Regions from separate parts of the Homo sapiens genome. Here regions 1, 2, 4, 5 and 6 are each linked to region 3. Evidence: fine-mapped expression QTL. A gene starts in region 3. Each other region holds a variant in brackets. All regions are shown on one strand. Distances are from middle to middle.

What was found. PIP is the estimated chance that this variant, and not a neighbour inherited with it, causes the effect.
Region 1: its variant is fine-mapped to the expression of CLK4 in fibroblasts (GTEx, PIP 0.96).
Region 2: its variant is fine-mapped to the expression of CLK4 in whole blood (INTERVAL, PIP above 0.99).
Region 4: its variant is fine-mapped to the expression of CLK4 in whole blood (INTERVAL, PIP above 0.99).
Region 5: its variant is fine-mapped to the expression of CLK4 in whole blood (TOPMed, PIP above 0.99).
Region 6: its variant is fine-mapped to the expression of CLK4 in whole blood (GTEx, PIP 0.97).

The regions. Positions count from the first base shown.
Region 1 is chr5:178,646,699-178,650,788 of GRCh38, reverse strand. No RefSeq gene overlaps it. Among named protein-coding and RNA genes, the nearest start is that of CLK4, 22 kb to the right of the region's middle. The variant T/A (reference allele first, on the strand shown) is at 1,876.
Region 2 is chr5:178,667,484-178,671,555 of GRCh38, reverse strand. No RefSeq gene overlaps it. Among named protein-coding and RNA genes, the nearest start is that of MSANTD5, 28 kb to the left of the region's middle. The variant C/T (reference allele first, on the strand shown) is at 1,780.
Region 3 is chr5:178,624,648-178,628,737 of GRCh38, reverse strand. It overlaps CLK4 (CDC like kinase 4), which reads left to right and starts at 1,688. Exons shown (of 13, transcript NM_020666.3): 1 at 1,688-1,792. RefSeq lists enhancers at 1,720-2,329, 2,062-2,742.
Region 4 is chr5:178,686,090-178,690,179 of GRCh38, reverse strand. No RefSeq gene overlaps it. Among named protein-coding and RNA genes, the nearest start is that of MSANTD5, 9.6 kb to the left of the region's middle. The variant G/T (reference allele first, on the strand shown) is at 1,875.
Region 5 is chr5:178,725,813-178,729,902 of GRCh38, reverse strand. It overlaps ZNF354A (zinc finger protein 354A), which reads left to right. Exons shown (of 5, transcript NM_005649.3): 2 at 830-913; 3 at 2,778-2,904. The coding sequence starts at 881. Among named protein-coding and RNA genes, the nearest start is that of ZNF354A, 2.8 kb to the left of the region's middle. The variant G/A (reference allele first, on the strand shown) is at 1,810.
Region 6 is chr5:178,677,877-178,681,966 of GRCh38, reverse strand. No RefSeq gene overlaps it. Among named protein-coding and RNA genes, the nearest start is that of MSANTD5, 18 kb to the left of the region's middle. The variant A/G (reference allele first, on the strand shown) is at 2,107.

The sequences.
Region 1 (4,090 bases), 22 kb before region 3:
CCAAAGTGCTGGGATGATGGACGTGAACCACTGCACCCTGCCTTTGGAGCTTTTTAGAATGCAGACTCTCAGGCCCCAACTCATACCTACTGAGCCAGAACCTGGATTAACAAGATCCCTTACGCTTCATGTGTAGATTAAGTGTTGATCTAGAACAATATTTTTCAAAGAGCTTATTCGTGACTCATGAAATCATTTAGCCTGTTGTGACCAGCACTTAAAAGAAAGACAGAGAGAAGGAAATGGAAGAGGAGATAGAGAGGAGAATCAAAGCAAATCAAGAGGCGAGAACACATTGCACACAGAAAGGATCCGTATTGCTTCATGGACGTGTGGTTTCCAAGGTCACCATAGCAGAAGAGGAGAAAAGGAGGCCAAACACTGGCTCTTTATTGCCTCAACCTGAAAGTGATGCACCCACAGGCCATTGGCCAGAACTAGTCATGTGGATTCAGCCTCACTGCAAGGAAAGCTGGGAAATAGAGGCACTCATGGACGTTTGGTGAATACTAACAACTCTTCCACAGCCTGTGTGCTGGTTTTGTCTGTGAGGGCTGCTGTGGGATCACTAGCCAGGGAAGTAGTGCCTGGCACAGTCTGCCCTCATTAAATGTTTAGTGAATGAATAAATGTATATTTCCCATTAATTGAGATAGATGCGGAGATTACAAAAACAAATCTGATGTGGTTCCTGTTTTCGATGAGCTCTCAGGATTCTTCTTTCTTTCCCTCGTGTTTTAGGGGGAAACTGGCCTCTCTCCTCTTCAAAAGCTCCACTTGCCACCTGTGCCTCCCCTAAGAATGTCCTTTGGCCCTGTCTCCATCAACCGTCACTGTCTCCCTGACGACCCCCTTCCTCTCCACTGACAGGTTACCTCCTCTTGCTCTCCAAGCAGCCTCACATCTTCTCAAACCTGAAATAACCTCTCAGCATTGCTTCCCCTTCATCACTTTGCAACTCCCAATCACCCTCAACATACCACACCCAGGATCCTGGCCTCATCACTCGTACTTGATTAAAAATGCTTCCTCAAAGCTACTGGTGACTTCCTAATTTTTTAAACAGCTTCACTGAGCTGTATGTTTCATATACCATACACTTCACCAATGTGAAGTTCACAATTCAATGGTCTCTAGCATGTTTCTCTCACCACAAAAAGGAACCCCACACCCTTTAGCTTTCACTCCCCATACTCCCATCCTCCTCCCCTGACCCTAAACAACCGCTAATCCGCTTTCCTTCACTGTAGATTTCCCTGCTCTGTACTTTCATATGAATGGAATCATACCATGTATGGCCTTTTGTGACTGGCTTCATCCACTCGGCTTAATGTTTTCCAAGTCCATCCATGCTGTGGCATGTGTCAGCACGTCATTCCTTTTTATGGCTGAATAATATTCCACTGTGTGGAAAGACCACATTTTGTTTATCCATTCATCCATTGATGCACATTTGGATTGTTACACTTTTGGACTATAATGAATAGTGCTGTTATGAACATTCATGTATACGTTTTTTGTGAACATGTTTTCAATTCTCTTGGGTATATAACAGGAGTGGAATTGCTGGGTCATATGATAACTGTTTAATCATTTGAGCAACTGCCAGACTTTTCTAAAGTGGCTGCACTGCTTTACATTCTTATCCATGTGTGGAGGGTCTAATTTCGCTACATTTTTTTTTTTTGAGACAGAGTCTCACTCTTGTCGCCCAGACTGGAGTGCAGTGGCGTGATTTCGGCTCACTACAGGCTCCCCCTCTCGGGTTCACACCATTCTCCTGCCTCAGCCTCCCGAGTAGCTGGGACTACAGGCGCCCGCCACCACGCCTGGCTAAGGTTTTGTATTTTTAGTAGAGATGGAGTTTCACCGTGT[T/A]AGCCAGGATGGTCTCGATCTCCTGACCTCGTGATCCGCCCGCCTCGGCCTCCCAAAGTGCTGGGATTATAGGCATGAGCCACTGCGCCTGGCCTAATTTCACTGTATTTTGCCAACGCTTGATATTATCTAATTTTCATTCTAACCGTTCTAGTCGGGGAGGGAAAATTGTAGCTCGTTGTGGTTTAAATTTGCATTTCCCTGATAACTAGGGACTTTCTAATTTTTTTTTTAAAGTAGAGATGGCATCTCACTCTGTCACCCAGACTGGAGTGCAGTGGCACAGTAACAGCTCACTGCAGCCTCGACCTCCTGGGCTCAAGCAATCCTTCCACCCCAGCCCCCTGAGTAGCCGGGACTACAGGCATACTGAGCTAATGGACTTCCTAATTTTTTAAATCACTATCTTCTTATTTCCTATCTAACATAGTCTTCCTTTAGCTTTTCACACCACTCTTGATGCAATTCAGTTCCCTCCCTTATGCAGCTCCTGAGGTCTGCTCCTCTCTGGCATTCCCTTCCTGACTTTCTGGCCTCCTTCACGGACTCTTATTTCCACCCCACAAATTCTGTTGCTCCCAGGGCTTCGTCCTCAGCCCTGTTCTTGCTCTGCTGTGACCCTGCTAACCCTGTTCACCCCTGTGCCTCTCACCAGCACCCACATGGAAGACCCTTGAATGTAGACACTTCCCAGGTCTTAGTCCCCATTCCACTTCACACTATCCTTCATAGAAACTCAATGAAAAGTTCAATCCAATATCAATAAAGTGTCTATGACTAAGATGCACAGAAAATATTGTATACTATAATTAGTAATAATGATTCCTTCTTTCAAGTATCAGTTAAAAATAAGTAGATGGGCCAGGCGCGGTGGCTCACGCCTGATATCCCAGCACTTTGGGAGGCCAAGGCTGGCGGATCACTTGAGGTCAGCAGTTTGAGACCAGCCTGACCAACATGGTGAAACCTCCTCTCTACTAAAAATACAAAAATTAGCCAGGCGTGGCGGCGGGTGCCTGTAATCCCACCTACTAGGGAGGCTGAGGCAGGAGAATCACTTGAACCCAGGAGGCAGAGGGTGCAGTGAGCTGAGATCGTGCCATTGCACTACAGCTGGGTGTCAAGAGCAAAACTCCATCTCAATAAATAAATAAATAAATAAATAAATAAATAAATAAAATAAAAAATAAGTAGATGACTTGAGCCCAGAATCCCAGCTACTTGGGAGACTGAAGCGAGAGGATTGCTTGAGGACAGGCGTTCAAGATCAGCCTGGTCAACATAGTGAGACCCTGTCTCTACGAAAACTTTTTAAAAAAAAATTAGCCCAGCATGGTGGCACATACCTGTAGTCCCAGCTACTCAGGAGGCTGAGGCAGGAGGATTGCTTGAGCCCAGGAATTTGAGACTGTAATGAGCTATGATCATACCAATACACTCCACCCTGGGAAACAGAGAGAGATCCCATCTCTGAAAAACATTAAAAGGTAGATGGACACTAGTAATATTGAAAGAAATTCCCAGGGAAAAAGCATTGTATTATAGCATATTGTTTTCTCAGGTTCTTTATGGTATAAGGAGGCAGTTCACATTCTAGGCCAACGGTGAGTAAACTCGTGCTCAAAGAACCAGAGACTAAATATTTGAGGCTTTGCTGGCCACAAAGTCTCTGCCATAACTAATCAGCTCCACCTTTGTAATACAAAAGCAGCAGACGATGTACAAATGAATATGCATGACTATATATTTTTATCTTTTTTACTTTTTGCAAATTTTCAATACAGATAGGGTCTCACTATGTTGCCCAGGCTGGTCTCGAACTCCTGGGCCCAAGTGATCCTCCCACCTCGGCCTCCCAAAGTGCTGGGATTACAGATGTGAGCCACTGTGCCCAGCCATCATGACTATATTCTCATAAAACTTTAAAAACATCTGGCCAGCCAGTAGGCAGCACTTTATGGATCCCTGATTTAGCCATCACACCTGCGCTATACCCACGGGAGGAGGGCAAAGAACAGAAATGTACACCGTCTCCATTTAGGAACATTTCTACTTACTTGTTATTCCCTGGAACTAGTTACAAGGCCTTACCAATCTGCAAGAGTCAGAGACATACAATCTTTCGGCTAAGTGACTAGCAGCAGCTAACTATTGGGTAGGAGAACTACTACTGAGGAAAAAGGGGAGATTAGACATTAGGACTTTAGAAGTCTCC
Region 2 (4,072 bases), 43 kb before region 3:
GGGTTTTTACTTATTTGTCATTTACCAGTCCACACACTTCTGAAATGCAGCCAATCCATGATAGAAGAGCAGGCATCAGCCACAACCACAGTCTAGGCATCGTGCTAAAATTCCGACAACTCCTAAACACATCTGCCTCTGATGGTCCACAAATCCCTGAACTCCAAGTGAGATAGAAACCATTGTTCATGACAACAGATTCCTCTTCACTGCCCGGAGATCACTTAAGCCAGACTCCTCTCCACATGCCCTGTGGGAGAAAATGTGGGAAGCAGCTGTGTAGTGATTGCGAATATTTTTATCTAAGACAGACTGAACTCCAACTCAGTGGGTGTCCCAGAGTGTAGACGGGGCTATACTTTAGCCCAGCCCGGATCCCCAGCTCTGTGGTACGCAGCAATAGAGATGCTTAATTTGAAGTCTAAGGAATGCAGGTGGGTTGAAATTCATAACCCCCTCGAATCTATCTGCAAATCGTGTGTATATATGTGCAGTTTTCTGGCAAAAGATTTCACAGCTTTTATCACATTTTTAAGAAGTTAGTGCTTCCAATGGCTAAGAATGTCTCAAATGAATAAATGAATAAGCATATCCTGCATCTGCGTCTTCTAGGGTGCCACAAACATGGTTACTGAGTGTGGAATGCATTCACCCCTTCCCTTATCCACTCAATCTCACCGAGTGGCCCCCGCTGTGAGTTCACAAGGAGAGGAACTTTGGGGTCTAGGTGTGAGTCGGATGTGTGCCCTGTCTCCGGGGAGCATCAGGGAATCTGAGACAGAGGCTGAGCAAGGGAGCGACCAGAGCAGTCAGAGGAGAAAGGAGAGAGGTGGACGATGCCCACATGAAGAGGAGGCAGCATTTGAAATGGGCTTCGTCAGAAGGAAGTCGGGATGCCAGGCAGATATTCCTGGCAGAGTGGGAAGATACAGCATCTGTTCAGGGAAAGGAGGCTGTTCTGTTGGATCAAAGAACATCTTACGTGTCAGAAAAAAGCAGGAGATGGATATGGGATCAGAAGAACTGGATTCTAGCCCCAGTCAGCCCTAGCTTGTTGGGTGAGCTAGAGCCAGCCCTTCCCTCCCTGTGCCTCAGAGCCCTTCTGTGTACACTGGGGATGGTGGAACATGCCATCCCGAGAGCTCTGTGGTCTGTCCACTCAAGACAGCAGACTGGGGCTGTTGTTACTGCTATTATTACTGTCATTGCTCTTGTTCTTACTGCTGACCATGATGTCAAGTCTCTGTCAACTCAGCTCAGAAATTCTTACTGTGACCTCCAATGTGGTGTTGAAAAAAAAGAAATTCCTGTGACACCTCCACTTTGACGTCTAGACATCTCGAGCTCAGTCCAGAGCAAAACTGAGGGTCTTCCCCCGCAGACCTGCTGTTCTTGTCCACAGCCTTTCCTGTCCCAGCTGAAGGCAAATCTGCCTTTTCAGTTGCTCAGGCTGTGAACACTCGTGCCCTCTGATATTCCCGCAAGCATCCAGTCTGTGAAGGAATGACGGCTGGACCTTCCAGATATTTCTCTTCTCACCCCATCCACTGCTCCCCATCTGGTTCAACCCACGTCATTTCTCCCTGGCACTCTGTAACAGTCTCCTAGTGGGCTTTCCTGTGTCTACCTTTGTCCCTTAGTCTATTCCGTGACATGCTCAGAGCTCTGCACATTCTCCCCTAAATCAAGCAGAAACCAAAGCCCTAACACGAAAAATTTGTTCCACGTTGCCTTTGAATTGCTCCTTGACCACTCTCCCCTTTGTCCACTTTAACCCCA[C/T]GGGCTGCAGCCCCAACATACCAGGGAAAGTTCCTCGCCAAAGCCTTTGCTCTAACAATTCTTTCAACCTGGAATGTGTGTCCTCCAGACAGCGCCGTGGCTGGCTCTGTGGCTCGCTCCGTGTCTTCAATCCTCGCTCAGCTCTTGCCTTCCCACAGACCTTCTCTGACCACCCATTTCCATGCTGTCACTGAACCTGCCCCTCACATTCTTAGACCCCGTTTGTCACTCCTCTTCTTCTCTAAGCCCTTATCACCTTTTAGCATCACGCATTTTGTTCACGATTTATTTGCACTGTCTGTGTTTGGCCTCTCTTGCTAGGACATTAGCTAGAAGAAGAAGAGACATTTGTGTCAATCACCAGTGAGTCCCGGGCACCTGCAGGCTGCGTGGAATAAAGTAGATATTCAGCAAATATTTGTTGGAAGAGTGAATCAGTGAATGAGAAAGAGGAAACTGTTTAACAAGTGAATAAACTAATGGAATTAGAATTTGATAAATCCCTACACTTTACGAAGCTCTCCAGGAACAGCCAAGTTGAGAGCAGAAGTGAGTGGGAAGAGGCATTTTCATGTTGGGGTGATGCTCTACATGTTTCTTACATTGCTGTGGCACTCCATAAGACAAGGGCGCAACTGTAGCTGCAGGAGTTACATTCCCGAAGGCCGGAAGACAGCAGTGCTTGGTGCACTGGCGGATGAGCAAGGAAGTAAGTGTGGCTGCCCTGCAGTGGAGGGGAGAACGCTAAGAAACGAGGCCACAGGCTGTCAGGGCTCACATTTTGCAGAGCCACGGTGTTATGGGTTGAATTGTATCTTCCCAAAATCCATGTGTCAAAGTCCTAACCCTCCATACCTCAGAATGGGATCTTATTTGGAGATACGATCTTTACAGGGGTAATCAGATTAAAAGGAGGCTATGACAAAACAAACAAAAATGAGGCCATTAGGGTTGGCCCCTCATCCACTATGACTGTGTCCTCATAAAAAGGGGAAGTTGGAGATAGGGAGAATACCACATGAAGATGAGGGTGGAGATTGGGGTGTTGCCTCTAGAAGCCGAGGAATGCCAAAGCTTGCCAGCAAACCACGAGAAGCCAGGCAGGCGGCGTGGAGCAAATCCCCTCTCACAGAAGGAACCGGCCCTGCCATCACCTTGATCTCGGACTTCCAGCCTCCAGGACCATGAGACAACACATATCTGCTGTGTAAGCCACATGGTTTGTGGAACTTGGTGACAGCGGCTCTTGGAAACAAACACACATGGCAAGAAGTTTTAGATTTGCTAGGCGTGAGGAGGAGCCTCTGGAGGGATCAGGGGTGTGATATTTTATTATTATTATTATTAATTTGTATTGTGGTAAAAAATGCAGACTATAAGCCTTATCATCTTCACCATTTCTCAGTGTACATGCAGTGCAGCAGTAAATATATTCACACTGTTGTACAACCATCAGCACCATCCATCTCCAGAACGTTTTCCTCTTGCAAAACGGCAACTCTGTACTTGTTAAACAACTCCCTGCTCCCCCTGCCCCCAGCCGCTGGCAACCACCATTCTGCTTTCTATAGAATGCTCTGTGTTAGAATGCTCTAGGTATCTCATATAAGCGGACTTATACGGTATTTGTTCTTTTGTGACTGGTTCTTTTCACTTAACATCATGTCCTCAAGGCTTCTCCGTGTTGCGCCAGAATTTCCTTCCTTTTGAAGGCTGACATGTTGAAAGATTGCACCGACTGCAGTGTGAGAACTGGTGGGAGGCAGGTAGAGCGGTTGGGCAGCCTGTCGGAGCAATCGTCGCTGCCTCTTCCCAGAGCCCGTTGAATGTGGCTGTGGATGGTGAGTAGGGATGACAGCTCATCACTGCCCCTGCAGCTCCTTCCACCAGCTCCCTCTCTGGCAATGGGGGATATTCACGCAGGGTGAATTCTAACTCCCTCCTCAGACCAGCACCTGCAAGTCGATCTGGAGTTTCCTAACCTGTGCCTGAGCTGCTGCAGGTCTCTGCGTTGCTGGCACGTGCCAGCTTTCTTTCTGGGGCTTGAATTGCTCACTGCCTTTAGCCCCCTGTGATATATGTGACCACATCCCCACGTGGCAGGTCCTCATCGCATGAGTGTCACTGCGTCTGCAGCTCCTTGGTCCCAGTGGGATCTGGAACATGGCACTTTGTCTCCTGGGGCCCAGCTTTCCTCATTCAGGCAGTGGGCCTGTATCAGCACCGATTCCATGTTAAAGAAGAATTTTCCTTGCTCGAGTGTATGACTGCTTTGCTGAAGCTGGTAGACTTA
Region 3 (4,090 bases):
GAGAACATTCTTTGGTGCCAGCTTGAATTTACATTCTCATATGCTGCAATTTGAGCCCCACTCTACCTTGTATTATCGCCCAGACCAGTCAGCTCAACATTCTATCTAATAGATTCCCTTGAGACGGGATGTGTAATCAATTGTAGAACCAATACATTTCACTCTTTGGGCAAAATCTGTTAGCATACCAGGTGGCTCCAAATACTCCACTATTTGAGGACTTCACATCTAACTGGAGTAGTCAGGAGCCGGGAAATGGGTGGGAACTCATGTCAGAGACAGCATCTTAAAGAAATGGCCTTTCAAGGATGAGTAAGATTTAAATTTGTAGATGCAAAAATGGTGGCTATTCTAGATGAAAATAATATCATTTGTTTCATTCTGTAGCATAAAGAGTTTACCCTTCCAGTTTTCCAAGTTTCTTTTCAACTTCGCTTCTTGGAGTGCAATCTCCATGAAAATTCAACTTACTTTTTGAAATGCTGTACAATCTCCGAGATTTATCTAAATTTACCCTACTTACCCAAACCAGATGGCACAAGTTTCTATCATGTTAGATCACTAAAGGTATTTCCGTTCCCTCCTTTCACCTAACAGGATAACAGGTCTCCCACATGCTACTGGGCTAATACCCGCAAGAGTTCAACCCTACCCTCCCAAATTTGATTTCTAGCTTTCCCTTTTATCCAGCGAATCCCCGTCAGAATACAGAAGCCAACCCCCACCCCGCCCGCCGTCCCCCCCCACGATCTTCAGTCTCACCTAAACCCTTTCCCTCACTTACGCCCTTCCTTGCTTTGACACCCTATTCTTGGTTCTCCTCCTCTGCTGATCATTCCTTCTCAGGCCCCTTTCCCTCTGGCCCTTGAGTGTTCCCCACAGGGCTCCGACTTTGACCCTAATATTTCTCATGTTACATACTTACACGGGGGAACTGCCTGAGGGTCCTCAGAACTGCAGAATACCTTATTTGAGGTAAGCAAGCCCCATAACGGACTATCACTAGCTCAGAGACATTTTTCAGCCTTGAATAAAATCAGCCCGCAGGGACAAAAAAAAATGGGGAAAACTTCGTTAGGGAAACTTCCAGCGACCTTAACTGCTCAGGAGGTAGGGATCCTAACAGGAAAACCTTGTCAGGAGTCTCCATTGAAACCTCCGGGTTTTTGTTTTGTTCTGAATAGGAGCACGTGCCTTGAAAAGATTAGCACCCCTTGAGCTTGTTTTCTGAGACAGCCTCTTTGTCCGAATCCACCTTAGACTGGAAGCGCCAAGTGGGCAGGACAAGCACCCAGTCCAGGGAACAGCCCAGGGACCAGCCAAGGCCCGCCCTAGGCGGTTTTGGGGCCGTTGTCGGGTGCCGGCTGCGGGAGTTGAGGTCCCGGGGGAGGGGGCAGACACGCGGTACACACTGAGGGCGGGACACGGGCGTTCCTTCCCGGTTCCACCCGAGCCCGTAGAGAACGTAAACACCCTCCCGGCCTAGAGGCCCCGGGACCGGGTGGGCGGGGGGGGGGGGGTGGAAATGCTTGGGCCGCGCAGCCGCAGTGTGGAGGCTCGAGCCCCGCTCTTACGTCACGTGGAGCCCCGCCCTTAGGTGGAGCGGCGGGAGCGCGCAAGGTTCTGTCACGCAGGCGCGTTCGCGCGGCGTAGGTGGTGCTAGAGGCGACTCGGGGGATTCTAGGGCGACGGCGCTGCCGCCATTTTGTGGGGTGTTTGTCGCAGCGGCCGAGGAGGGAAGACGGCAGTTTGGCGACATTTCTCGGCCGAAGGGCCATTTGCTTTTGCGGAGGTAGGGTTGCAGATGGTGTGTGCTGGGACAGGCGGCTGTCGGTCTTTAGGTCTCCGAGCCAGGTGTCGGAGAAACGACCGCGTTAGGGGCCTGGGCTTCTGGAGCTGAGTTGGGAGTTCTGCGAGGCGCTGCTCGGCTGGTGCACGCCGGCAGCACCGAAAGTTGCTCGGGCGTCGCGGTTCTGCCGCTGACCCTTCTCTGAGGGCCCTGGCCGCTCGCGTCGCGGCTCCGGAGGCCGTGGGCTCGCGGTCCCCTGCTGCCTGGCGAGCGCGGCTGTTGGTTAACCCTGTCGGGACCTCTTCCAGCCGGCGGGCGCTAGGACCTGTCGGGAGACCCTTCGAGAGCCGTCTCTGGCATTCGTGTTGTCGGAGATCAAGTCTTCCCCTGGATTCCTGGCCTGGGCCGTTTGTAGCGTTTCGGGGGTTTTCCAGAGTCAAGCATTTGCCCCTGTCTTGAGTGCGCCAAAGGCACTGGCCGGGTGCCCAGGAGCCGGGAGGTGGGGACCGGGCGTCCGTGCAAATCCAGGTGGTTGAGGGCAGTAGCTGCTTGTGAGAGGTGGAAATTTGCGGAGGCTAGTCCTCTGTGCTATGCTGAACACAACATTGTTGCAGCGAACCTGCGTTTCTGGTGGTTTTGCATCTTATTATCCCTGGTTGCCTAAATAGTCCAGATAGGCTTATCCGATCCTTAGGAAACCGCCCCGCAAACTGAACTCGCCAGCCACTTTGTCTTGCCTCATAGCTGTCCTGTGCGATTGTGCTTTTTACACACCCCTACAGGCTTGTAACCCATTAAATGCAGTCCTCTTGGAGCCATCCAATCCTAAACTTATAACCTGTTTCGATGTTTTTAAGCCATGTACGTAGCGTAAAGTTGTCAAGAACTACAGGATCTTAAGGGCAGTGGCGATGGATCTACATATGAGATCCATTGTGTCATTATTTTTTGAAAGATACCTACTCTAGCATGTGGGATGCTTTATTAGAGGCAGTGTCATGATTCTAGATAGCTTTTCTTTTTTATGTATGCGAAGGAACCTTACCACGTAGAACGTGGGTCGGGTGATCTTTGTGCCTCCAGATAAAATATTTTTGAACATTGCAGGGTGAGTGGGGGAGGTCAGAGGCTGGGACTAACAGCTGAATTACATTTGAAGTAGTGAACTTGAGAAGAATTTTGGACTCTCACAACGGAGCTCGTTCTTATTTTAATGTTTGCATATTAACTGATAATTTGAGAGTTCTGTTTTGCTGGAGGTTAGCTGGTTGTAAGCAGACTTACAGTAGAAGAGGAAAAAACAAAACTGAAGAAGATACATAAGTCTTGAAAAAAACTTCATAGTAATGGAGGGTCATAATAATAACGCTCGGTCATCAGATGTGATTTTGCTTGCTATGATTTAAAAATGCTTAACCAAGCTGAGTTCCTGATGTGGTTAAAATACAACTTTGGTATTTGACGGAACGCTTCAGAAGAACTGCACTTGAAATACACATTTTCTTTTTTTTTTTTTTTTTTTTTTTGAGACAGGGTCTCACTGTCGCCCATACTGGTATGCAATGGCGTGATCATGGCTCACTGCAGCCTTGACTTCCTTGGGCTCCAGTGATTGTCCCAGTAGGTGGGACTACAGGCTCGAGTCACCATGTGCGGCTAATTTTTTGTATTTTTTGTAAAGGCAGGGTTTCGCCGTGTTGCCCAGGCCAGTCTCGAATTCCTGGGCTCAAGGGATGAGGCGCCACTGCGTCCAGCCATAAATTTTTCTTGATAGCTCTAATGAAGAAAGTTTGTGTTTTGGCCTTTTGCCTCAAGTAAATGTGTGCTGTTATTCATGTCACGTTCCCATATGGAAGTGACTCCATTTGTATCAAACCGGAATGCTCACTTCCATTGAGACGCTAACAAGAGTTTTAGAATTGCTGTTTGGCCTGATCAGTGCCTTCTCTTCCTCTGTAAAGTGAGCTGAGAGCCACCTTAGAAGGATGCTTGATGGGTATAGAATTAGAATCAGCAAGAGAGTGAATTAAAATATCTGACTATCTGGTGGCAATCAGACTCTGATGGCGTGACACATACTTTCTTGTGGAATACCTCCCAGAAGAATTGAAGCTGCCTCACTCCAAAACCTTTAATCCATTTAAAATCATTTAAATTTCTGCTTGCATTTGTTTGCTTATTAGTCATTTGGGCAAGCTGAATGAGGTTAACTGAGTGGGTTTTACTCCATTTTAGCTTTTTTCAGCTCCTTGCTGAATTGTGAAATTCTTCTCTTTTTACCATTTAAACTCACCCTGTTTA
Region 4 (4,090 bases), 61 kb before region 3:
TCGATACCTTTTTTTGAGACGCAGTCTCGCTCTGTCACCCAGGCTGGAGTGCAGTGGCGCGATCTCGGCTCACTGCAAGCTCTGCCTCCTGGGTTCACACTGTGACATGGGGCTGGAGAGTTGATCTAAACTGAGGGAGGACAGTGAAGGTGTCCCTGGCCAGCTGAAGGCAAACTGCTTCAGGTGGGCCTTCTGGACAGGGATGGAGAAAAAGGTGTGTGTCAGATCAATAGTTACATACCATGTACCAGGATATGTGTTAATTTGCTCAAGCAATGAAACAGCATCTGGTACAGCAACTGCAATTAGAGTTATCACTTGGTTAAGCTTCTGGGAATCCACCATCATTCTCCAGGATTCATCTGTCTTCTGCACAGGCCAGGAGAGTTGGACAAGGATGTGGGGTAGGAATCACCACCCCTCCATACTTCAAGTCTTTGATGATGGCACTCATCTATATCATTCCTCCAGGAAGGCAGTATTGGTGTGTTTTTTGTTTTAGTATTTTTCTAGGTAGAGATGGCTGTAACGCCTTCCATTTGTCCTTTCCCATCACAATTGCCCTCACTTTATAGCTCAGGGAACCCGTGTGGAAACTCTGCTAGCTGCTGAACACGTCTGTTCCAACTACACATCTGGACCCGGGAAATGACCAGAGAATGGGTTCCGGGACCCGCTGGGCCCACGGTGAGTTGGACCTGAGTTAAAGCTCCTGGTACCAAGATATGGAAAAACCTCTTTGACTGTCTTATTTCACTGGAAAACAGTATGGAGTTTACTCAAAAAAATTAAAAATAGAACTACCACATAATTCAACAGTGCCACTTCTGGGTATGTATCCAGGATCTGGAAGAGAGATCTGCATCTCACGTTCATTGCAGCACTATTCACAGTAGCAAAGATACGGAAACAATCTAAGTGTCCACTGACAGGTGAATGGATAAAAAGAAAACTTGACACACATACACACACAGCGGAATATTATTCAGCCACTTTAAAAAAGAAGTCCTGCCTATCAACAACATAAATGAACCTAGAGGGCACTATACTCAGTGAAGTGTGACAGAGACAGACAAATACTGTATGGTATCACTTATATATGGAATCTAAAAAGAAGAAACATTTCCAACTCATAGAAGCAGAGAGCAGAGCAACCTGGTGGTTGCCGGGAAGGGAGGTGGGGGAGGAAATGGAGAGATCTTGATCAAAGTGTACAAACTTTCAGTTATAAGATGAAGGAATTCTAAAGATCTAATGTACAGCACGGTGAGCATAGTTAATAATACTATATTTTATACTGAAGCTTGCTAAGAGAGTAGATCTGAAGTGTTCTCACCGAAAAAGGGAGGGGGTAAGTGTGGGAAGTATTGGGTAAGTGCTGTGGTTTGGATATTTGCCTCCAAATCTCATAATGTGAAATGCAATCCCCAGTGTTGAAGGTAAGGGCTAGTAGGTGTTTGGGTCATGGGCGTGGATCCCTCATTAATGGCTTGGTGCTGTCCTTGAGGTCATGAGTGAGTTCTTACTCTATTAGTTACCAAGAGATCTGATTGTTTAAAAGGGCCTGGCATCTCTCTCTTGCCTCCTCTCTTGCCATGTGACATGCCTGCTCCCTTTTTGCCTTCCACCAACAGTAAAGCCTTCCTGAGGCCTCCCCGGACTCCCAGCAGTTACTGGTGCCGTGTTAGTGCAGGCTGCAGAACTGTGGGCCAAATAACCTGTTTTCTGTATAAATTACCCATCCTCAGGTATTCCTTTACAGCCATGCGAAACAGACTAATGCAGCATGCTAATTAACTTTATCATGGTAATAACTTTATTTTATTATTTATTTACTTAGAGTCTCATTTTGTCACCCACGCTGGAGTGCAGTG[G/T]CACCATCTCAGCTAACTGCAACTTCTGCCTCCCAGGTTCAAGCAATTCTCCCATCTCAGCTTCCTGAGTAGTAGCTGGGATTAAAGGCACATGCCACCACACCTGGCTAATTTTTTGTATTTTTTTGGAGAGATGGGGTTTCGCTGTGTTGCCCAGGCTGATCTCAAACTCCTGGCCTCAAGTAATCCTCCCGCTGTGGCCTCCCAAAGTGCCGGGATTACAGGTGTGAGCCACCAGGGCTGGCCAGGGTAATCATTTTAAAGTGTTAACATATGTGAAATCATCAGTTGTACACCTTAAATAGATACAATTTTCTGTCAATTATGCCTCAATAAATTGAAGAAAATAATTTTTTTCTGGATATATTTTCTGAAAACTAAAGTGATTTAAGTTACATAAACAGAAAATAGTATCAAACTGAAAATAGACCCAAATTTTAACAGTTTTTATTTTACTAGAAATAATACTCTTTAGTTTTTCATTTTGTTTTTATATGATCATATATTTCTTTCTTTTCTTTTTTTTTGAGACAAAGTCTCGCTCTGTCACCCAGGCTGGAGTGCAGTGGCGCGATCTCAGCTCACTGCAAGCTCCTCCCACGTTCACGCCATTCTCCTGCCTCAGTCTCCCGAGTAGCTGGGACTACAGGCGCCTGCCACCATGCCCGGCTAATTTTTTGTATTTTTAGTAGAGACGGGGCTTCACCATGTTAGCCAGGATGGTCTCTATCTCCTGACCTCATGATCTGCCCGCCTTGGCCTCCCAAAGTGCTGGGATTACAGGTGTGAGCCACCGTGCCCGTCCATAATCATATATTTCTATCAAAGTAGAGGGAAATCCGGCCAGGTGCGGTGGCTCATACCTGTAATCCAAGCACTTTGGAAGGGCGAGGCAGGAGGATTAACTTGAGCTCAGGAATTCAAGACCAGCCTGGGCAACATGGTGAAACCCCGTCTCTTCTAAAAAATAAAAAAATTTAGCCAGGCGTGGTGGCGGGCACCTGTAATCCCAGTTACTCTGGAGGCAGAGGCGGGAGAATCGCTTGAAACCGGGAGGCGGAGGTTGCAGTGAGCTGAGATCAGGCCACTGCACTCCAGCCTGGGTGACAGAGAGTGAGAGCTTGTCTCAAAAAAAAAAAAAAAAATGTTGAGGGAAATCAAATATACTCAAAACCTTCTCTTGTAGCAGAGTTCATGAGAGGAAAAAAAAGAAAAAGAAATTTTTTTTTGCACAGAGTCTTGCTCTATCACCCAGGCTGGAGTGCAGTGGGGCGATCTCGGCTCACTGCAAGCTCCTCCTCCTGGGTTCACGCCATGCTCCTGCCTCAGCCTCCCGAGTAGCTGGGACTACAGGCGCCCGCCACCACGCCCGGCTAATTTTTTTGTATTTTTAGTAGAGACGGGGTTTCACCGTGTTCGCCAGGATGGTCTCGATCTCCTGACCTCGTGATCTGCCTGCCTCGGCCTCCCAAAGTGCTGGGATTACAGGCATGAGCCACTGCGCCTGGCCCAGAAAATGAAAAATTTTAAAAATTATCCTAGAAATTGTCAAATAGCTGATTTCAGACCAATTATCTTGCTAAAGAAACGTAGAAAAGTCAGTCAAAACAGAAAACATATATTTTTGAAGGAATTAAGGAGCTCTTAAGGCAGCCAAGACGTTGATGGGGCTTCTTTTTTTTTTTTTTTTGAGATGGAGTTTCGAGCCCAGACTGTAGTGCAGTGGCGTGATCTCAGCTCACTGCAACCTCCCTCCGCCTCCCAGGTTCAAGCGATTCTCCTGCCTCAGCCTCCGGAGTAGCTGGGATTACAGGCATGCACCACCATGCCCGGCTAATTTTGTATTTTCAGTAGAGACGGGGTTTCACCGTGTTAGCCAGGATGGTCTCGATCTCCTGACCTCGTGATCTGCCCGCCTCGGCCTCCCAGAGTGCTGGGATTACAGGCGTGAGCCGCCGCGCCCGGTCACGTGATGGGGCTTCCATCACAGACAGGAGGGAAGCCCTGAGAAGCCAGCCTGGCCTTTGGAGTGACTTCTCCCCTGTGAATATTTGCCGCTTGGAAAGCAGGAGCTGAGAGGCAGAAAATCTGTGCACAGTAGAGACAAAAGCCGGAGTTCAGGGGCCGATAACACCGCAGGTATTTAGCTGTGAGCCTTGTAGGTTTACACCCTAGCAGCAGGGCTGAGCTTGACATACAGTGAAGACCAATTTGGA
Region 5 (4,090 bases), 100 kb before region 3:
ACAGAGCGAGACTCCGTCTCAAAAAAGAAACATCGTGTTAGAAATGGGATACATGGGGTCGGGCGTGGTGGCTCACGCCTGTAATCCTAGATTTTTGGGATGCCAAGGCGGGCAGATCACCTGAGATCAGGAGTTCGAGACCAGCCTGGGCAACACGGTGAAACCTCGTCTCTACTAAAAATACAAAAATGAGCCGGGCGCCTGTAGTCCCAGCTACTCGGGAGGCTGAGGCAGGAGAATGGCTTGAACCCGGGAGGCAGAGCTTGCAGTGAGCCGAGATCCTGCCACTGCGCTACTGCACTCCAGTCTGGCCAACAGAGCGAGACTCCGCCTCAAAAAAAAAAAAGCCGTTTTCCGTGGAGTCGGGAGATGATTCGTTGGCGGGAGAGAGAGGAACCGGCTGGGAAAGGCTTGAGGCGGAGGGAAGTCGTCCCGGGGCCGTCGTGGTGGGAGTCCCGGCCCGCCTCGCAGCGGCGTGAACGGGGCAGGTGCCCCGGCGCTGCCTCAGTTTCCTGAGCGGTGCAGTGGGTGCTGGCAGTGCCAGCTGGCGCCGAGGAACTCAGCGGCGTGGGGCGAGCCCTGGCCCTGGTGGGCTCAGCGGGTCGCTGCTGCCACTGCGGCTCCAGCGTCCCCTCCGTAAGCCCCAAGCCTGTGGGGCCTGGGCCTGGCCGGGCGGCCCAGCGCTGCTCTGGTCCGCGGGCTCCTGGCTCCTCCCGAATCCCTGTGAGGGCGCGCGGGGTCCTTCTCAGCGGGAGTCGGGGTTTTAGAGCTGCGGATTCCAGGGCTGGAAAGCAGAAGGGGTTCTTCCTGGCTCCCTTTTTCTTCTCAGATCTGCCTTCTGGAGACTGCGCCGTCCTCCCGGGAGAGCCAGAAAGAGGACATGGCTGCTGGGCAGCGGGAAGCGAGGCCCCAGGTGAGCTCATTGCCCTCCCAGATCCCAGTGGATGGATTTTCCCCACTAACTGGAGTTCTTCACCCGGGACCATCTCCAGCCAGGATGGAGCCCAAGTCCTTTTCTCTTGGAGGAGCTGGTCCGCCCTCATGAGTGGTGGATTCTGTAGGGAGGACCACCCACCCTCCCCACCCGTGTCTAGTGGTTCTCTTTTTTTTTTTTTTTTTTGAATCTCGCTTTGTCGCCCAGGCAGTGGCGGGATCTCGGCTCGCTGCAACCTCTGCCTCCCAGGTTGAAGCAATTCTCCTGCCTCAGCCTCCCAAGTAGCTGGGATTACAGGCTCCCGCCATCACGCCCGGCTAAGTTTTTTTTTTTGTGCTTTTATTAGAGATGGGGTTTCACCACGTTGGCCAGGCTGGTCTCAAACTCCTGACCTCAGGTGATCCACCCGCCTCAGCCTCCCAAAGTGCTGGGATTACAGATGTGCGCCACTGCACCCAGCCCGAATAAATCATTTTCTGTACACATTTATTTGTGTGTGTGTGTTTGTGTATGCATGTTACCATCTATGTTACCATTTTAACCTTTTTTTATTGTGGCAAAATATATATAACATAAAATATACCATTTTAACTTTTTAAGTGTATAATTCAGTGGTATTTTAGGTACTTCCGCATTGCTGTGCAGCCATCATCGCTATCCATCTTTATTGTGTAGATTATCACATTTATTTCTTAACCCTAAGGGGCAGGCATTAAAAGGCAGTTTTACAGAGTAGTTAAGAATGCAAGCTCAGTGAGACATCTGCTGGATTTGAATTACACAAGAAAAAACAAAGTCACAGAGAGGATACAAAATTTGTAGAAGTCAGCCGGCCACAGTGGCTCACACCTGTAATCCCAGCACTTTGGGAGGTC[G/A]AGGCCGGCAGATCGCCTGAGGTTAGGAGTTTGAGACCAGCATGGTGGAACCCTGTCTCTACTAAAAATACAAAAATTAGCCGGGCATGGTGTCTAGCACCTGTAATCCCACCTACTCAGGAGGCCGAGGCAAGAGAATCATTGGAACCCGGAAGGTGGAGGTTACAGTAAGCCAAGATCATGCCATTGCACTCCAGCCTAGGCAACAAGAGCCAAACTCTGTCTCAAAGAAAAAAAAAAATGTGTACAAGTCACACAGCTGGTCAGTGACTGTGTCTGTGTGACCTGGACAAATTTCTTATCTTGTCTGTGACTTTGTTTTCTCTTGTGTAAAGTGGCAACAATAATGGTATCGTCTTGATAGGATTGTTGTGAATGTTAAATAAAGATTATACACTGCAAATTAACATAAAGCTCTAAGATCAATACTTGGCCCATAGAAAGCCTTCAATAAATTATAGCTATTTTACTTTTCGTCATTACTATCCTTAAGCTTGAGTAAGCACATAGAGAGTACCTTCAGTTGCTTAACCTAACCTCCATCATTAAGTATTTAGATTATTCCTGGTTTTTTGCTCTTAAAAACACCATGAATATGTTTGTGTGTACTTTTGTGCACTGTTCATTATCGTACAAATAGAGTAATTGGTACTTTAAAGAGTATACTTTGAGGGTTCTAATATGTATTAGCAAATCGCCATCAGAAAGAGTTTTCTAATTAACACTCCCACTAATGGCCGTAATTCCTCTACCCATCTCTTACAGTGGCTGCACTAGGCCTGAATCTCACTGTGTGCTGCTCAGTATACATTTGTTACTGGCCAATTATTCATTAAACGAATGATCTGGAACCTTCAGAAGCTTGAATAGTATGGGAAGTGTTTCACGGGTAGCGTGTCTTTCCCACTGCCGCCCCCTCTGCTCTGTGAGGGTGGTCCTGGGTGAGCTGGAACGACTTGTCCTTACAGGTGTCACTGACGTTTGAGGATGTGGCTGTGCTGTTTACCCGAGATGAGTGGAGAAAGCTGGCCCCTTCTCAGAGAAACTTGTACCGGGATGTGATGCTGGAGAACTATAGGAACCTGGTCTCACTGGGTAAGGAAATTTTCCCTCTAGAAACAGAATTCAAAAATTGGGATATCTCAGCACCTCCTTCCCTGAATAAAAGCGGTTGGTCACTGAAAAATTTGAGCTGAGTGTGTGAGGATTGTACAAATCAGATCTTTATAAATAAACATTAAAAACCTATTCCCCCTTATAGGCATGAAATTGCCCTGTGTCTGGGAATGGAAGAGGTGGTATTGATAATCATTCCTCTCTCTCTATGTAATCACACACTCCAAGTTTGTCCATGATTCAGGCATCGTTTCCCAACGATTCTGTAGTTTGCTTGTCTCCCAACAGGGAGCTTCATTCAGCCTCTAGGCCTACCACCTGCCTTTCCCACTTGTCTTTTCCAGGGATTAGCAAACTTTTACTATAAAAAGCCATGTAGGCTGGGCATGGTGGCTCACACCTGTAATCCCAGCACTTTGGGAGGCCAAGGCGGGCAGATCATGAGGTCAAGAGATAGAGACCATTCTGGCTAACGTGGTGAAAGCCTGTCTCTACTAAAAAACACAAAAAAAATTAGCTGGGTGTGATGCCGGGCGCCTGTAGTCCCCGCTACTTTGAAGGCTGAGGCAGGAGAATGGCGAGGAGCTTGCAGTGAGCCAAGTTCCCGCCACTGCACTCCAGCCTGGGCGACAAAGCGAGACTCTGTCTCAAAAAAAAAAAAGCCACGTAGTAAAGACTTTAGGCTTTGTGGGCTGCGTAATGGTCTCCGTAACATATTTCTCTTTTTTTTTCCCACCATTCTTTGCACAGGGCCATACATAAACAGGCAGTGGTCTGAATTTGGCCCATGACCCGTAGTTTGCTGATCACTGCCATCCTTAAAAGGGAGTCACATAGGCCGGGCGCGGTGGCTCACACCTGTAATCCCAGCACTTTGGGAGGCCGAGGCGGGCAGATCACAAGGTCAGAAGATCAAGACCATCCTGGCCAACATGGTGAAACCCTGTCTCTACTGAAAATACAAAACTTAGGCGTGGTGGCATGTTCCTGTAGTCCCCGCTACTTGGGAGACTGAGGCAGGAAAATCACTTGAACCCGGGAGACGGAGGTTGCAGTGAGCCAAGATTGCGCCACTGCACTCCAGCCTGGCAATAGAGCGAGACTCCTCCTCAGAAAAAAAAAGCGGAGTCAGATAGTGTTTTCTCGTTTTAGACAAGCTACCTGG
Region 6 (4,090 bases), 53 kb before region 3:
GAGTTCAAGACCAACCTGACCAACATGGTAAAATCCCGTCTCTACTAAAAATACAAAAATTAGCTGGGCGTAATGGCAGGTGCGTGTAGTCCCAGCTACTCAGGAGGCTGAGGCTGGAGAATCGCTTGAACCCAGGAGATGGAGGTTGCAGTGGGCCGAGATCACGCCACTGCACTCCAGCCTGGGTGACAGAGCAAGACTCCGTCTTGGGAAAAAAAAAGGCTAAACTCATAGAGACAGAGGGTAGAATGGCGGTTGTCAGGGGCTGGGGGGCGGCGTAAATGGAGGTGTACTGCTCAGCAGGTGTACAGTTTCGGTTATGCCAGATGAGTATGCTCTAGACAGCTGCTGCACGACACCGTGCCTATATTGACAATACTGTGTTGTGGGCTTAAACATTTGTCAGGAAGATAGATTTCATGTTAAATGTTCTTACTACTTTTTTTTTTTTGAGGGGACAGAGTTTTGCTCTTGTTGCCCAGGCTGGAGGGCAAATGGTGCGATCTCGGCTCACCAAAACCTCCGCCTCCCGCCTCCCGGGTTCAAGCGATTCTCCTGCCTCAGCCTCTTGAGTAGATGGGATTACAGGCGTCTGCCACCATGCCAGCTAAATTTTGTATTTTTAGTAGAAACAGTGTTTTGCCAGGTTGGCCAGGCTGGTCTCGAAATCCTGACCTCAGGTGATCCACCCGCCTCGGCCTCCCAAAGTGCTGGGATTACAGGCATGAGCCATGGCACCCGGCCTTTTTATGTTTTATTTTTTTTGAGATGGAGTCTTGCTCTGTCCCAGGCTCAAGTGATCCTCCCGCCTCAGCCCTTCGGAGTAGCTGGGACCAGAAGTGCATGCCACCGGGCCTGGCTAATTTTTTCTTTCTTCTTCTACTTCTTCTTCTTTTTTTTTTTTTGTTTTTTTTGGTATTTTTGGTAGAGATGGAGTTTCGCCATATTGCACAGGCTGGTCTCGAACTTCTGAGCTCAGGCGATCCACCCGCCTCAGCCTCCCAAAGTGCTGGGATTACAGGCATAAGCCCCATGCCTGGCCTTCTTAGTACAATTTTTTAGAAACGAAATGAAACAATGTCCCTAGATTTTTCAATGAATGAAAGCCATAAATTTAGAGAATCACATTACAGGATTAAAGGAAACCTCACTTAGGCACATAATAGTCAACCTACTACAAACCAAAGATAAAGACAAAATGTTGAAATCAGCCAGAGGGAAATGGCACATGTCATACAAGGAAACAATAAATGAAAATTACCACTGACAGTTCTTTATCAGAGGGCAGAAGAGTTGGGTAGACCTCTTTAAAAGAGCAAAACTGTCAATCAGCATTCTATATCTAGTACAATTATTCTTCCAAACTGAAGAGAAAATAAAAATACTTTCAGGTAAAAGAAAACAAAGATGATTTCTTGCCAGTAGAGCTGCATTGTAATAAATGCTAAAGGAGGCTGGGCGTGTTGGCTCACACCTGTAATCTCAGCACTTTGGGAGGCCGAGGCGGGTGGATCACGAGGTCAGGAGATCGAGACCATCCTAGCTAACATGGTGAAACTCCATCTCTACTAAAAATACAAAAAAATTAGCCAGGTGTGGTGGTGGGCGCCTGTAGTCCCAGCTACTCGGGAGGCTGAGGCAGGAGAATGGCGTGAACCCGGGAGGCAGAGCTTGCAGTGAGCCGAGATCACGCCACTGCACTCCAGCCTGGGCGACAGAGCGAGACTCCGTCTCAAAAAATAAATAAATAAATAAATAAATGCTGAAGGAGATATTTTAAGGAAAATGAAAGTAGATGCAACAAAGCACAACAAAACGGTAAATCTATGAGTAGATATTTTTAAATTGTTCTCTTAGTTTATCCAAAATTTATATAAATAAAAAAGTATGGTATTGTATTGTGGTTATACATGTAACTGTGGTAATTTTTTTTTTTTTTTGAGACAGAGTCTTGCTTTGTTGCCCAGGCTGGGGTACAGTGGCGTGATCTTGGCTCACTGTAACCTCTGCCTCCCCAATTCAAGCAATTCTCCTGCCTCAGCCTCCTGAGTAGCTGGGACCACAGGCATGCACCACCATGCCTGGCTAATTTTTTGTATTTTTAGT[A/G]GAGCTGGGGTTTCACCATGTTGGCCAGGCTGGTGGTCTCGAACTCTTGACCTCAGGTGACCCACCCACCTCGATCTCCCAAAGTGCTGGGATGACAAGCATGAGCCACCGCACCTGGCCAACTGTGGTATTTATAATAACTATGTTATAAAGGATGGTGGTCAATGGAACTATAGAGCTGTAGGGTCTCTACCTATGATGTGAAGGTGGCATAATGTCAACAGTTATACTAAACGTTCTAATCAGTAGGCACAGATTGCAGTAATGAGTGAAAAAGGAAAGACTCAACCATTAGATGTCTATAAGAAATCTGCTTTAAACATAGGCATAGATATTTGAAAGTAAATGGAAGGAAATCTATAAACCATATAAACATAGCATATAGGCAGGCGTGGTGACTCAGACTGTAACCCCAGCACTTTGGGAAGTTGAGATGGGAGGATCGCTTGAGCCCAGGAGTTTAAGACCCACCTGGGCAACAAAGTAAGACCCCATCTCTACAAAAAATTTTAAAACATTAGCTGGGCGTGGTGGTACATGGCTCTGGTCCTAGCTACTCAGGATGCTGAGGTGGGGGCATTGCTTGAGCCCAGGAGTTTGAGGTCGTAGTGTGCAATACCCATACCTGTAAATAGTCATGGCACTTCAGCCTGGACAACATGGTGAAACCTTGTCTCTACAAAAAATACCAAGATTAGCTGGGCGTGGTGGTAGTGCCTGTAATCCCAGCTACTTGGGAGGCTGAAGTGGGAGGATCGCTTGAGCATGGGAGGTCGAAGCTGCAGTGAGCCGAGATGGTGCCACTGCACTCCAGCTGACAGAGTAAGACCCTGTCTCAAAAAACAAACATAAGCATAATATACCTAATACTAATATCAAATAAATTTTAAGGGCTGGGCACAGTGGCTCATGCCTGTCATCCCAGCACTTTGGGAGGCTGAGGCAGGTGGATCACCTGAGGTTAGGAGTTCGAGACCAGCCTGGCCAATATGGTGAAAGCCCATCTCTACTAAAAATACAAAAATTAGCCGGTCGTGGTGGCGCCTGCCTATAATCCCAGCTACTCAGGAAGCTGAGGCAGGAGAATTGCTTGAACCCGGGAGGTGGAGGTTGCGGTGAGCAGAGATCACACCACTGCACTCCAGCCTGGGCAAGAGAGAGTGAGACTCTGTCTCAAAAAAAAAAAAAAAGGGACTTTCAGATAAAATATGTTGTTAAAGACAAATATTTTATAATTATAAGAGGATCAGTTGACTAGGAAGACGTATCAGTCATAAATATGTATCCATCTAATAACAGAGCTTCAAAACACATGATGAAAATGGAGAAGGTCGAGAGACGAACTTCTGAAATGGCTGAGTTAGGAGCCCCACCAATCATCTCCACAAGAAGCAACAATATAACTAGATAAAATTGGCAAAAACAGCTATTTAAATGCTGAAAATGTACCAAAGGGGAACAACAAATTGAGAATCATTTACTCAAGAAAATCTACTGACGTTTGGTCAGAAGATAGAGAGTCTAGGAGTTCTCCAATCACTGCTCCCCTTCCCCTGTGGTATGGATGTTCTATCCAGCCGCAGGCCAGGTCCTAAGGATCGGGAGCTCTCCTGTCTGTCCATAGCAGAGCATGGAAAATTCAATGCCCAAGGGTGTTGTAAAAAACAATAGGGATCTTAGTGGCAAACAGTCACATAAAGCCAATATTGCAGCTATCCTGAGGTCAAGATATTGGTTGGGACAAGCATCCAAATGGCAGGCCAACCAGGAATTTAACAGGGATAGCCAGTGGACGAGACAGCCAAGGAGGGACGTTTCAGATCCAACTTACCCCGAGGGTCTGGAAAGATGTGTATACACTAAGTCGTGCTAGTTCAGGGCAAGTGAGGGAAGGCCCCAGTGATGGGTAAGTATGGGGTGTTAAAAGAAAAGCTTCAGCCAAATTAATTTAAAGAAGTTTAATTGAGCAATGAACAATTTGTGA